Regions from separate parts of the Homo sapiens genome. Here region 2 is linked to region 1. Evidence: fine-mapped expression QTL. A gene starts in region 1. The other region holds a variant in brackets. All regions are shown on one strand. Distances are between the middles of the regions. Region 1 holds the start of IDI1 (isopentenyl-diphosphate delta isomerase 1). Region 2 overlaps GTPBP4 (GTP binding protein 4).

Evidence for each region.
Region 2: its variant is fine-mapped to the expression of IDI1 in blood mononuclear cells (TOPMed, PIP above 0.99). The same link has a PIP of 0.9 or more in whole blood.

Annotation. Positions count from the first base shown.
Region 1 is chr10:1,046,911-1,052,286 of GRCh38, reverse strand. It overlaps IDI1 (isopentenyl-diphosphate delta isomerase 1), which reads left to right and starts at 3,168. Exons shown (of 5, transcript NM_004508.4): 1 at 3,168-3,423. The coding sequence starts at 3,284. RefSeq lists enhancers at 2,520-2,659, 2,331-2,860, 3,120-3,169, 2,861-3,390, 3,391-3,921 and silencers at 3,260-3,479, 3,490-3,579.
Region 2 is chr10:1,006,979-1,012,354 of GRCh38, reverse strand. It overlaps GTPBP4 (GTP binding protein 4), which reads right to left. Exons shown (of 17, transcript NM_012341.3): 10 at 5,227-5,337; 11 at 3,320-3,397; 12 at 2,775-2,826; 13 at 1,835-1,935. Among named protein-coding and RNA genes, the nearest start is that of IDI2-AS1, 13 kb to the left of the region's middle. RefSeq lists enhancers at 2,736-3,236, 3,237-3,737. The variant T/A (reference allele first, on the strand shown) is at 2,429.

The DNA.
Region 1 (5,376 bases):
GTGAAGATGTGAACACTGTTGAAATGATAACAAAGGATTCAGAATACTCCATAGACTTAGTTTATGAAGTAGCAGCAGGGTTTGAGAGGATTGACTCTAACTTTGGAAGTTTTCCTGGCCGGGTGCGGTGGCTCATGCCTATAATCCCAGCATTTTGAGAGGCCAAGGTGGGCAGATCACAAGGTCAGGAGTTCAAGACCAGCCTGGCCAACATGGTGAAACCCAAGCTCTACTAATAATACAAAAATTAGCCGGGCATGGTGGCACACGCCCATAGTGCCAGCTACTCATGAGGCTGAGGTAGGAGAATTGCTTGAACCCAGGAGGTGGAGGTTACAGTGAGCCAAGATCGCACCACTGCACTTCAGCCTGGGCGAAAGAACGAGACTCTGTCTCAAAAAAAAGTTTTCCTGTGGTTTAAAAAAAATCTTTCATGAAAAGAATTGTCAATCAACGTGACAAATTTCATTATTGTCTTATTTTAAGAAACTGCAACAGCCACCCCAACTTTCAAGCACCACCTTGATCAACAGCCATCAACATTGAGGCAAAACCCTCCACCAGCAAAAAGATTATGACTCATTGAAGGCTCAGCTGATGGTTAGCAGTAAAAAATATTAACTTTAATCATCTCGACCATTCAGTACTCATCTAATATTCTCTATAACAAAATGGGAAATGCACATAAAGCACTTCTGCTACATGCTGAATTATGATTGTTGTCTCCAGGAAAAGAACTTGTGGGAACGTTTGAGTTGTAAGCTGAACTAACTAGCTGCTTTTTTCATGAAATACCGCTTTTACTGGAAAGAACTGACAGATAAACTGAGGTATTCAAACCTAGATATTTGGCAGACATTTTCGTGAAAATAAATATGTTCGTGCCACTTCAAGGAACATAATTCTCAGTACTTGTTGCCAATAATGTTGGAATTTTCATGCAAAAATTCAAATAAAAAACAAACTTAAAACCATCAAGAACTTGGTGACTTTATGTGGAAGCCAGTGCTACAATACTTTAGCTTCCCAATACTTAAAAACTTTTCTGATGAGATTACTAGTGATATTAACAATGTGATTGATATTGAATAATGAAATGTTTTAGCATTTGGAAGATCTGTTTAATTCAGTAAATCAGTATTTTCCAAATGACCAATGCATGACATTTCAACATCACGCACAGGAAAATAGGCATTCGAGGTACAGTCAAAAATAATGAGTTTTAATGTAACAAGTACAAAATGTCCATTGAAGTGGTTTCAAATTCCAAATAGTAATTGGAAAATCCACCACTCGTGTTTTGGGGTAGTAGTATCGAAAAAGAATAACCAAGATAATTTGAAAAGGCTATTAAAAAATACTTCTCAATTTTCAAACTGCATACAGCAGGTGCTCATTCATTTCTTTGTAACATTGATGAGAAAAAGACTCCCAGCCAGGGGCACTGTCTTTGTGGTGTTTACGTGTTCTCGCCACACCTGCATAGGTTTTCTCTGGGTGCTGCAGTTCTTGCCACATCCCAGAGGTGTGCACGTGAGGTGAACTGGTGTGTCTTCACTGTCCCAGTCTGAGTGTGGGTGTGTGAGTGGCCCTGTGATGGAATGGCGTCCTGTCCAGGGCTGGTTCCCTCTTTGTGCCCTGAGCTACTGAAACAGGCTTCAGCTACACATGACCCAGAACTGGAATAATTAAGTAATAATTATCTTTTTATTCATCTTTCTTAAATGTATGTATAGCTCACATTTATTTCAATGTTTAATATTAGAATACTTTGGCCTTTAGAAGCTTAGTGATTTTTTTTTTCCTTGGCCAGAAGTATGCTTTAGGAACTTAATCCTTATTTTTTAGCCTCTGGTAAAATTGGTTTTGCTATACGTTGTTTCACTTAAAAGTCCTGATTCCCAAGAACGCACTGACAGCAGTGAGGACTTGCTGCGCATGCGGGAGGCCAGATTTTCTTATCTGTGTGAAGCCAGACATGAAAGAGATCTGTCAACACATAAAACAAAATCAAAGTCTGTTTTTTGTCTGGAAAAGATTTTTAATAAAAATATAACTTATGTTAGTGTCGTGTGTTTTTTAAGTGAATATTTTAATATGTTTAATTTCTATGTTAGTAAATAGCAGTAGTAAACAACAGTGAGCAAAAGCTTTTAGGTGTCCTCAGTACATTTTAAGAGAGTGCAAGCGTCCTGTGACCAAGAAGTTTGAGAACTGGTGCCCACCAGGTTCATCTCACAAGTTCAGTATTTTAAATTCCACACAAAAGGTAGAGGAAATAGCTGAATTCGCTTCAGCTGCGCATACATTTCACGATTATTTAAAAGTTTAGAGGGCTAGGCGCGGTGGCTCACACCCGGAATCTCAGCACTTCGGTAAGCTGAGCCAGGTGGATCACTTGAGGTCAGGAGTTCCAGACCAGCCTGACCAACATGCGGAAACCCGTCTCTACTAAAAATACGAAATAAGCCGGGCGTGGTGGCGCATGCCTGTAATTCCAGCTACTTGGGAGGCTGAGACGGGACAATTGCCTGAACCCGGGCGGCGGAGGTTGCTGTGAGCGGAGACTGCACCATTGCACTCAAGCCTGGGCAACAAGAATGAAACTGTCTCAAAAAAAAAAAATTTAGAACGTAGTCATGTACCTCGAAAGCGAACACTCCCAACATAGCGTGGAACACCCCACACCCCCGGCGACTTTGCTCCGCCTTGGTCCCGGTCGCAGACACCGCAGAAAGGCCATCGTTCTAGACATACGAGAACTCCCCGTGCAGCCAAACGCTGTAGTCCCAGCGGCGGAACTCGGGGGGGGGGAGGGGGGGGAGTGCCCAACCAGCCAGTCAGCAGTGACGTCCCGCCTTTCCTCCGTTTCCATTGGTCCAGCCATGCGGAGGTCGCTCCCATGGGACGCCGAGCTTCCGGCTGCAGGGCTTGGCGCCCGGGCGCTTTCGGATTGGGAGGGCTTCCTCCATGGAACGCGAGCCTCGAGACGTCTGACGTTAGGCACCGTTCGCAGCGCCTCGGGCTCGCACGGCAGGATCGAAAGCGTGATTGGCTGGCGGCGTCTGTGGTCTCGGGCACCGCCCAGTCGCGGGACGCTGCCTCTGCGGAACTGGGGGTGGGGCGTGTTGACCCCCTTAAAGGCGCCAGAGCCCGCGGTCACGGCTCAGGTTCCCGGTGCTTCGCGCGTCTGCCGTTGTCACAGGCCAGGGAGGTGGCACCACCAGGCGAAGCTTGGCGAGATTGTGTCGTCAAGCGCGTACGGGCGCCAATTGGCCGGGCGATGTGGCGTGGACTGGCGCTGGCGCGAGCGATTGGCTGCGCGGCCCGGGGGCGGGGCCAGTGGGCGGTGCGCGCCGCAGACTGTGCTCAAAGCGGGCGCCATCCGGGACCGGCGGTTGTCTGTGGCCGGAGGCTGATCAGGTACTGTGGACGGGCGGCGGAGTTCGGGAGACAGGGGCAGGGCGGCATCGGGGAGCTGCGGGACGGGGCGGGGAGGAGGCCCGAGGTCTGAGCCACCCGTGAGGTCTCGGCGCGGAGGCCTGGACAGCTGGGGGTGGCGGCGTTGGTCTCCCGAACTGGAGGGAGGCCGGGCCTTCCCGGGCTGTGGTGGGCGCCCGCGCCCCGTGGAAGGCGGAGGCGTGAGTCGGGGCGTCAGAGACGTTGCCATTCTTTGTCAGCGGAAAAGATCGTCGTCTGCGCACAGTCACCTGAGGTTTAGGAACTCGTGGAACTGGAAACCGAGTCGCAGGAGACTAAGAGTTGCGAGTCTCCCCTTAGAGAATTCAGAAACAAGCGTAGACAGCATCGTCAGAAACACGAGCGTGACGACACCGGCCTCCCCGTGCCGAGTCCACGCGTGTGACGCGGGTGCATACACCTGCGTCCGTGCAAGAGGGTGACAGCAACACACTCAAGGCGCTTCTCCTGGGAATGGAGCAGGAGAAGAGATGGGGAGCATCGCATAGATGGAACTAGACCTTTTTCTTGGGTTGGATGATGTGTTCCCGCGTCTACTACATGGTATTCTTTAAACGCATAAATAGACGTATTCATTTTATCTTGTGATTATGCAGCTTAGCTTTAAAATCTGAATTCTGAAAATCCTGAAAGAGCAATTGTCATTACAGCTGGGCGGTGGTGCACGCCTTTAATCCCAGCACTTTGGGAGGCGGAGTCGAAGGCTGCAGTGAGCCGAGATCGCGCCACTGCACTCCAGCTTGGGCGACAGACATAGCAAGACCCAGCCCCATCCCCCCGGAAAAAAAGTCATGTCAAAAAGTCTAGTAATTATGTAGTAACGAAACCTATCTTAGTGATCACCTAATATACAGTTGGCCTACTGTATCCTTGGGGTCCATATCCATGGATTTAACCAACTGCACATTATAAAATATTTGGAAAAAAATTTCATCTGTACTGAACATATACAGACTTATTCTGTAAACAATACAGCACAACTATTTATGTAGGATTTACATGTTTTAGATACTATAAGAGATCATCTACAGATGATAATTTAACGTTCGGCCCGCATCACTTAACAGGGATACTTTGGAGAAGTTCATTGTTAGGTACTTTCATCATTGTGGAAGCAGAGTGCGCTGACGCAGACCTAGACAGTGGAGCAGCTGGGCTGTGTGGTGTAGACAGACGGTGGAGCAGCTGGGCTGTGTGGTGTAGACAGTGGAGCAGCTGGGCTGTGTGGTGTAGACAAAGGACCAGACAGTGGAGCAGCTGGGCTGTGTGGTGTAGACAGTGGAGCAGCTGGGCTGTGTGGTGTAGACAGTAGACAGTGGAGCAGCTGGGCTGTGTGGTGTAGACAGTGGAGCAGCTGGGCTGTGTGGTGTAGACAGTGGAGCAGCTGGGCTGTGTGGTGTAGACAGTGGAGCAGCTGGGCTGTGTGGTGTAGACAGTGGAGCAGCTGGGCTGTGTGGTGTAGACAGTGGAGCAGCTGGGCTGTGTGGTGTAGACAGTGGAGCAGCTGGGCTGTGTGGTGTAGACAGTGGAGCAGCTGGGCTGTGTGGTGTAGACAGTGGAGCAGCTGGGCTGTGTGGTGTAGACAGTGGAGCAGCTGGGCTGTGTGGTGTAGACAGTGGAGCAGCTGGGCTGTGTGGTGTAGACAGTGGAGCAGCTGGGCTGTGTGGTGTAGACAGTGGAGCAGCTGGGCTGTGTGGTGTAGACAGTGGAGCAGCTGGGCTGTGTGGTGTAGACAGTGGAGCAGCTGGGCTGTGTGGTGTAGACAGTGGAGCAGCTGGGCTGTGTGGTGTAGACAGTGGAGCAGCTGGGCTGTGTGGTGTAGACAGTGGAGCAGCTGGGCTGTGTGGTGTAGACAGTGGAGCAGCTGGGCTGTGTGGTGTAGACAGTGGAGCAGCT
Region 2 (5,376 bases), 40 kb after region 1:
GATTGCCCTGGTCCAGACCCACCTGGGCCCTGCCTATGTGCCATTTACCTCACAGGGAGGGTTCTGTGAAGAAAATGGAGACCACGTGAACGCCAGCCGCCAGCAAGTCAGTAACCCCTGTGCACCATTTCCTTTTTTTAAAACAATTAAATTCCAAGGCTAAAAATGTGCAGAGACCGCCTCCTTCACTTCCAATGCTCCCGGCAGACACACACAAGGAACTCAGTCCTGAGACACTGATTTCGTGCCACATCCCACGTGTCCGTTCTAATGTCACCCCAAATACAACCTCACTGGCTACAAATAAGACAAAAATGAAAACTAAAACACACACGTTTATCACCCCCCAATGAGGCAACCCGGCCAGGAGCCCAGCAGGCAGATGTGCCTGTACGAGATGCTGGCCAGCAGTGCAGAGGGTGAGACGGGGGCCAGGCCTCGTGGAAGGGGATGGCACGGGCACAGCTGTGCGGAGGAGGGAAGTCTCAAGGCTTCTTGCGCCCAAGAGCGCGCACTGCAGAGGGGAAGAGGCTGGGAAGGCAGGCGGCCACCGCGGGGACAGTGAGGGCACGGGCTGGACTGGGGCCCCAGCAGAGGTGACAGCAGATGCCCTGAGGCCACTCCTCCAGCACCAACGAAATTGAGATTGTTGCCCCCAGAATCTGCTATCCCAGAATCTGCTATGGAGGCACAGGGAGCACAGAGACCACGAGACTGAAAATGTGAACTCAATGACGGAGGGCCTGTGGGAACCAAGGAGTGGCAACATGGGACATGCAGATGGCAAGTATTGTATAAAAAGAATGTTCCAGAGAGCTCAGCTGAGAGAAGAAGGCAGGACAGCAAGTATTGTATAAAAAGCATGTTCCAGAGAGCTCAGCTGAGAGCAGAAGGCAGGACAGCAAGTATTGTATAAGCATGTTAGCATGTTTCAGACAGCTCAGCTGAGAGAAGAAGGCAGGATAGCAACTAATGGAGGACACGGTCTAAGGATGTTTTCGTTTTTTAAAAAGATGAGTAAAACTTGTGGACTTTTATATGCTAAGAAAAAGCAAGTAGGGAGGGGATTGAGGCAGGAAAAAGATGTGACACAGCGGAGCCCCCAAGGAAGAGGGTCCAGCACAGCAGAGTCCATTAAGGGCCTGGCGGAGATACAGGGTGGGGAAGGTGGTGCAGGGGGCACAGTCAGGATGGAGGGATGCAGGAGAATGAAGGGGCCCAGCATCTCCACCAGAGTCTCGGGGTGGGGGGAAGAGGTGCAGGAGGCACAGTCAGGATGGAGGGATGCAGGAGAATGAAGGGCCCAGCACAGCAGAGCCCATCCAGGGCCTGGCGGAGACACAGGGTGGGGGGGAAGGTGGTGCAGGAGGCACAGTCAGGATGGAGGGGTGCAGGAGAATGAAGAGGCCCAGCATCTCCACCAGAGTCTCGGGGTGGGGAAGGTGGTGTAGGGGGCAGAGTCAGGATGGAGGGATGCAGGAGAATGAAGGGGCCCAGCATCTCCACCAGTGTCGGGACAGGGAAGAGGTGCAGGAGGCAGAGTCAGGATGGAGGGGTGCAGGATAACGAAGGGGCCCAGCATCTCCACCAGAGTGTCCGGGGTGGGTGGGTGGAGGCGGCGGGAAGGGGGCAGGCCAGCATAGCAGAGCCCAGCCAGGGCCAGTATCTCCACCAGAGTCTCAGGGTGGGGAAGTGGTACAGGGGGCAGAGTCAGGATGGAGGGGTGCAGAATGAAGCGGACAGGCCCAGCTGAGCCGAAGCCATGCTGCTATCTTCCAGCAATACTACTATAATAAAAAGGAAAACAATCCGCAATTTAAAAAGTGACACAAACCTTCATGATGGCTGGATCAATATAATCAGCTATATTATGGCCTTCCCAGATTTCTGGTATCTTATCATGTTTTTCAGACAAATTCATTAAATCCCAGTACTCTAAAGTTAAAAAAAAGGTGGTTACGTTTACAGCAGTTTTTAATATCTTCAAGTACTACGTGCGCAAAATGAGTTGTGACTGACGGCAAATCAACGACTCCACTGCAGAAGAGAGCACGACGTGCAATTCCACATGCAGCAGCATCAACACATCAGCCTCATTCAACACCCACACGTGGAGAAAGCTACAGAAATCACCCCACCATCCCAAAACAACAGGAAACAACACATCAGCCTCATTCAACACCCACACGTGGAGAAAGCTACAGAAATCACCCCACCATCCCAAAACAACAGGAAACAACACATCAGCCTCATTCAACACCCACACGTGGAGAAAGCTACAGAAATCACCCCACCATCCCAAAACAACAGGAAACAATGGAAGAACCCCCACTGAGTGCTATCAGCATGCACCTTTCTTTGAGACAGAGTCTCACTCTGTCGTCCAGGCTGGAGGGCAGAGGTACAATTTCTGCCCACTGCAGCCTTG[T/A]CCTCCTAGGGTCAAGTGATCCTCCCACCTCAGCCTCCCGTGTCACTGGAACTACAGGCACATGCCACCACACCCGGCTAATCTTTGTATTTTTTGTAGAGACGGGGTTCTGCCATGTTGCCCAGGTTGGTCTCAAACTCCTGGGCATAAGGGATCCAAAGTGCTGTGATTACAGGCGTGAGCCACTGCACCTGGCCCTCAGGATGCAACTTTTAATCTTCAAGAAATTAAAAGTTGACAAATAGGCTGAAACACTTTTATTACTTATTAAAGTCTTTCCCCCATTTTCTGAAATACTTCACGTCCAATTGGCATTTTATAATAATGATCACACTCTGGCCCTTACTCTGAAGATCCAAAATATAATCATCTCCCATTTCCAGCTCAAGATCTCGTTCCTGCAATAGAAAGAGAAATTATCATCAGCTTCATTTTGCCTTTCAGATCCAGAAATGCTCTGCCCCTTGTCACTTGAAACAATCTTTTCTCCAATCCTCTCAGTATCAGTGGGGTTCACCTTCCATTTCTGGTAGGAAGGCTGTTTCTTATCTCCCTGTCTGCGGGGCCAGCCTTTGGGTTCTGGTAGGAAGAGGCTGTTTCTTATCTCCCTGTCTGTGGGGCCGGCCTTTAGGTTCTGGTAGGAAGAGGCTGTTTCTGGCCATCTGGGGACTGTCTATCCCACTCATGCATTTGGTTCACGGCCATCTTCCCTCAGGCCAAAGAGCCCCATGAGAGAGGCTTCTGCAGGGGGACTCACTGCTGTGTCCGCAGCCTGACGGGGCCAGTGTCTGGGCACCCGCGGCTCCTGTTCGATGCCCCAGGCCCCCACGATGGGCACACACAGCCTGCCTCCCCCCATGAGAACACTGGGCGAGAGCTTCGGCAGCATACCCTCTTCTTCCTGGACTCCTCAGTTTCCATCCTCTTCCTGCGAGCCACCACTCCTTCAGGGATGAAAGGGGGCCTCTCCTGAGAAGATCCCATATAAAATATTTATGTGAAATGCCTGCTGAATGAGAAACTTACAAAGCCGAAAAAGTAGAAACAAATTCCCTACGTGCAAGGGGAACAGAAAACCATACCCAGACCAATGAACAACCAACAGATTATTTTAGGGGAGAGGAGTGGGTTCATACCGAGACCAATTAACAACCAACAGATTATTTTAGGGGAGAGGAGTGGGTTCAGGGTCACTTTGAGCACAGAGACCAGGAGGACTCCACAAAGTGATTCCAAAGTTTATCCAGGAAAAACAGAAATCATGATTATCATGAAAAATTATGGAAGAAGAAAGTGGTAAGAAATAACACTGGATCAACAGATGAAAGAAATTTAGACATAAACTCAAGTGCATATAAGAATTCAATGGAAACATAAAATTTCCAATACTCAGGTCAGAAATGCCGACCACTTGAAACGGAGTGCAACCTCCACCCTCACAACATAACCAACTCAAGACACGGTGAAGACTATCCAAAAAAGCTAATTTTTAATGCTAGTATAAAAGATAATTTTTTTTTTTTGACAGAGTCTCACTCTTGTCACCCAGGCTGGAGTACAGTGGAGTGATCTCGGCTCACTGCAACCTCCACCTCCCAGGTTCAAACGATTCTCCCGCCTCAGCCTCCTGAATAGGTAGAATTATAGGTGCGCGCCCGACTAATTTTCGTAGTTTTAGCAGAGATGGGGTTTCACCATGATTGCCAGGCTGGTCTCAGACTCTTGACCTCAGGTGATCCACCCGCCTCGGCCTCCCAGAGTGCTGGGATTACAGACGTGAGCCACTGCACCCAGCAAGAAAAGATACTTTTAAAATGACTTTGGAATGAATGGTAAGCCTTTCTATGTACAATGCAAACCTGAACACCCAGAAAAAAAAATTAATATATGTTAATAGTTCAAAAATGTACAGCACATTTGAAGTTAAAAAGGCAAGTGACAAAAAGAGAAAAAAATTTGCAATGTATCTGACAAGAATCCAACCTTTGTAATACAAAAGTAACAAATCAGCGAGAAAAAGATAAACAGCCTAAAGAACTTTGAAAAGGCCAATAAGCAGACAAACATGCTCAACCGCACCCAGCATTACATAAACACACAACAATAAAATCATCTTTACACAAGACTGACAGTCAGTGCCCGACCACGCCGAGGACACAAGGAAAGACAGAGGGAAGGACACAGCCTCCAGCGTCAGTGCAGCACACACCAGGAAGGCGTCTGTGGGACAGGAACGTTGTCAACACCACATGGTGAAGTGCAGACACATTTGCAGTAAAACATGAAGACACAGCGTAACGATGTGTGCCCATTCACAATGGACAAAACAATGAAAATTTATTTTATTTATTTTTTATAGAGACAGGGTCCCACTATGTTGCCCAGGCTGGTCAAGAACTCCTGGGCTTAAGCAATCTTCCCACCTTGGCCTCCCAAAGTGCTGGGATTACAGGCGTGAGCTACTTCCCCCAGCCAAAAAAATGAAAATTTAAAGAATGAAACAGATTTCCATCTGTGTTTAAAGAACTTTTTAGAAACTAATCTTCTATATCAGAAACATTTCTGGAAGGATAAACTAACAGTGACCACGTCATGCAGTGGGAAACGGGTGCCATGTGGCGTTCTGCACTTTCTTCACCTTCTCGATCCTTTATGTAAGCAAGAAGGTGAAACTGAGGCCCACCCACAATATCCACCTGCGAGTGTGTGAAGCTGGATGGGAGGCTTCTGGAAAAGGCACGCAGACAGCACCTGCTGACAGTACTGTGAGCCCACGGCTGTCCCAGGGGCCGTCTTACCTTATCGTCCCTCCTGGTTGGGATAGCCAGGTGCAGTCTATTCAGCACCTCATTCACTTTATTTCCCTTCATTTTGGTTTCCACTCGATGAGCCAAAAGCCTATCGCAAGCCTAATAACGTAAAAAAGAAGGCACAGTCACAAACGCATC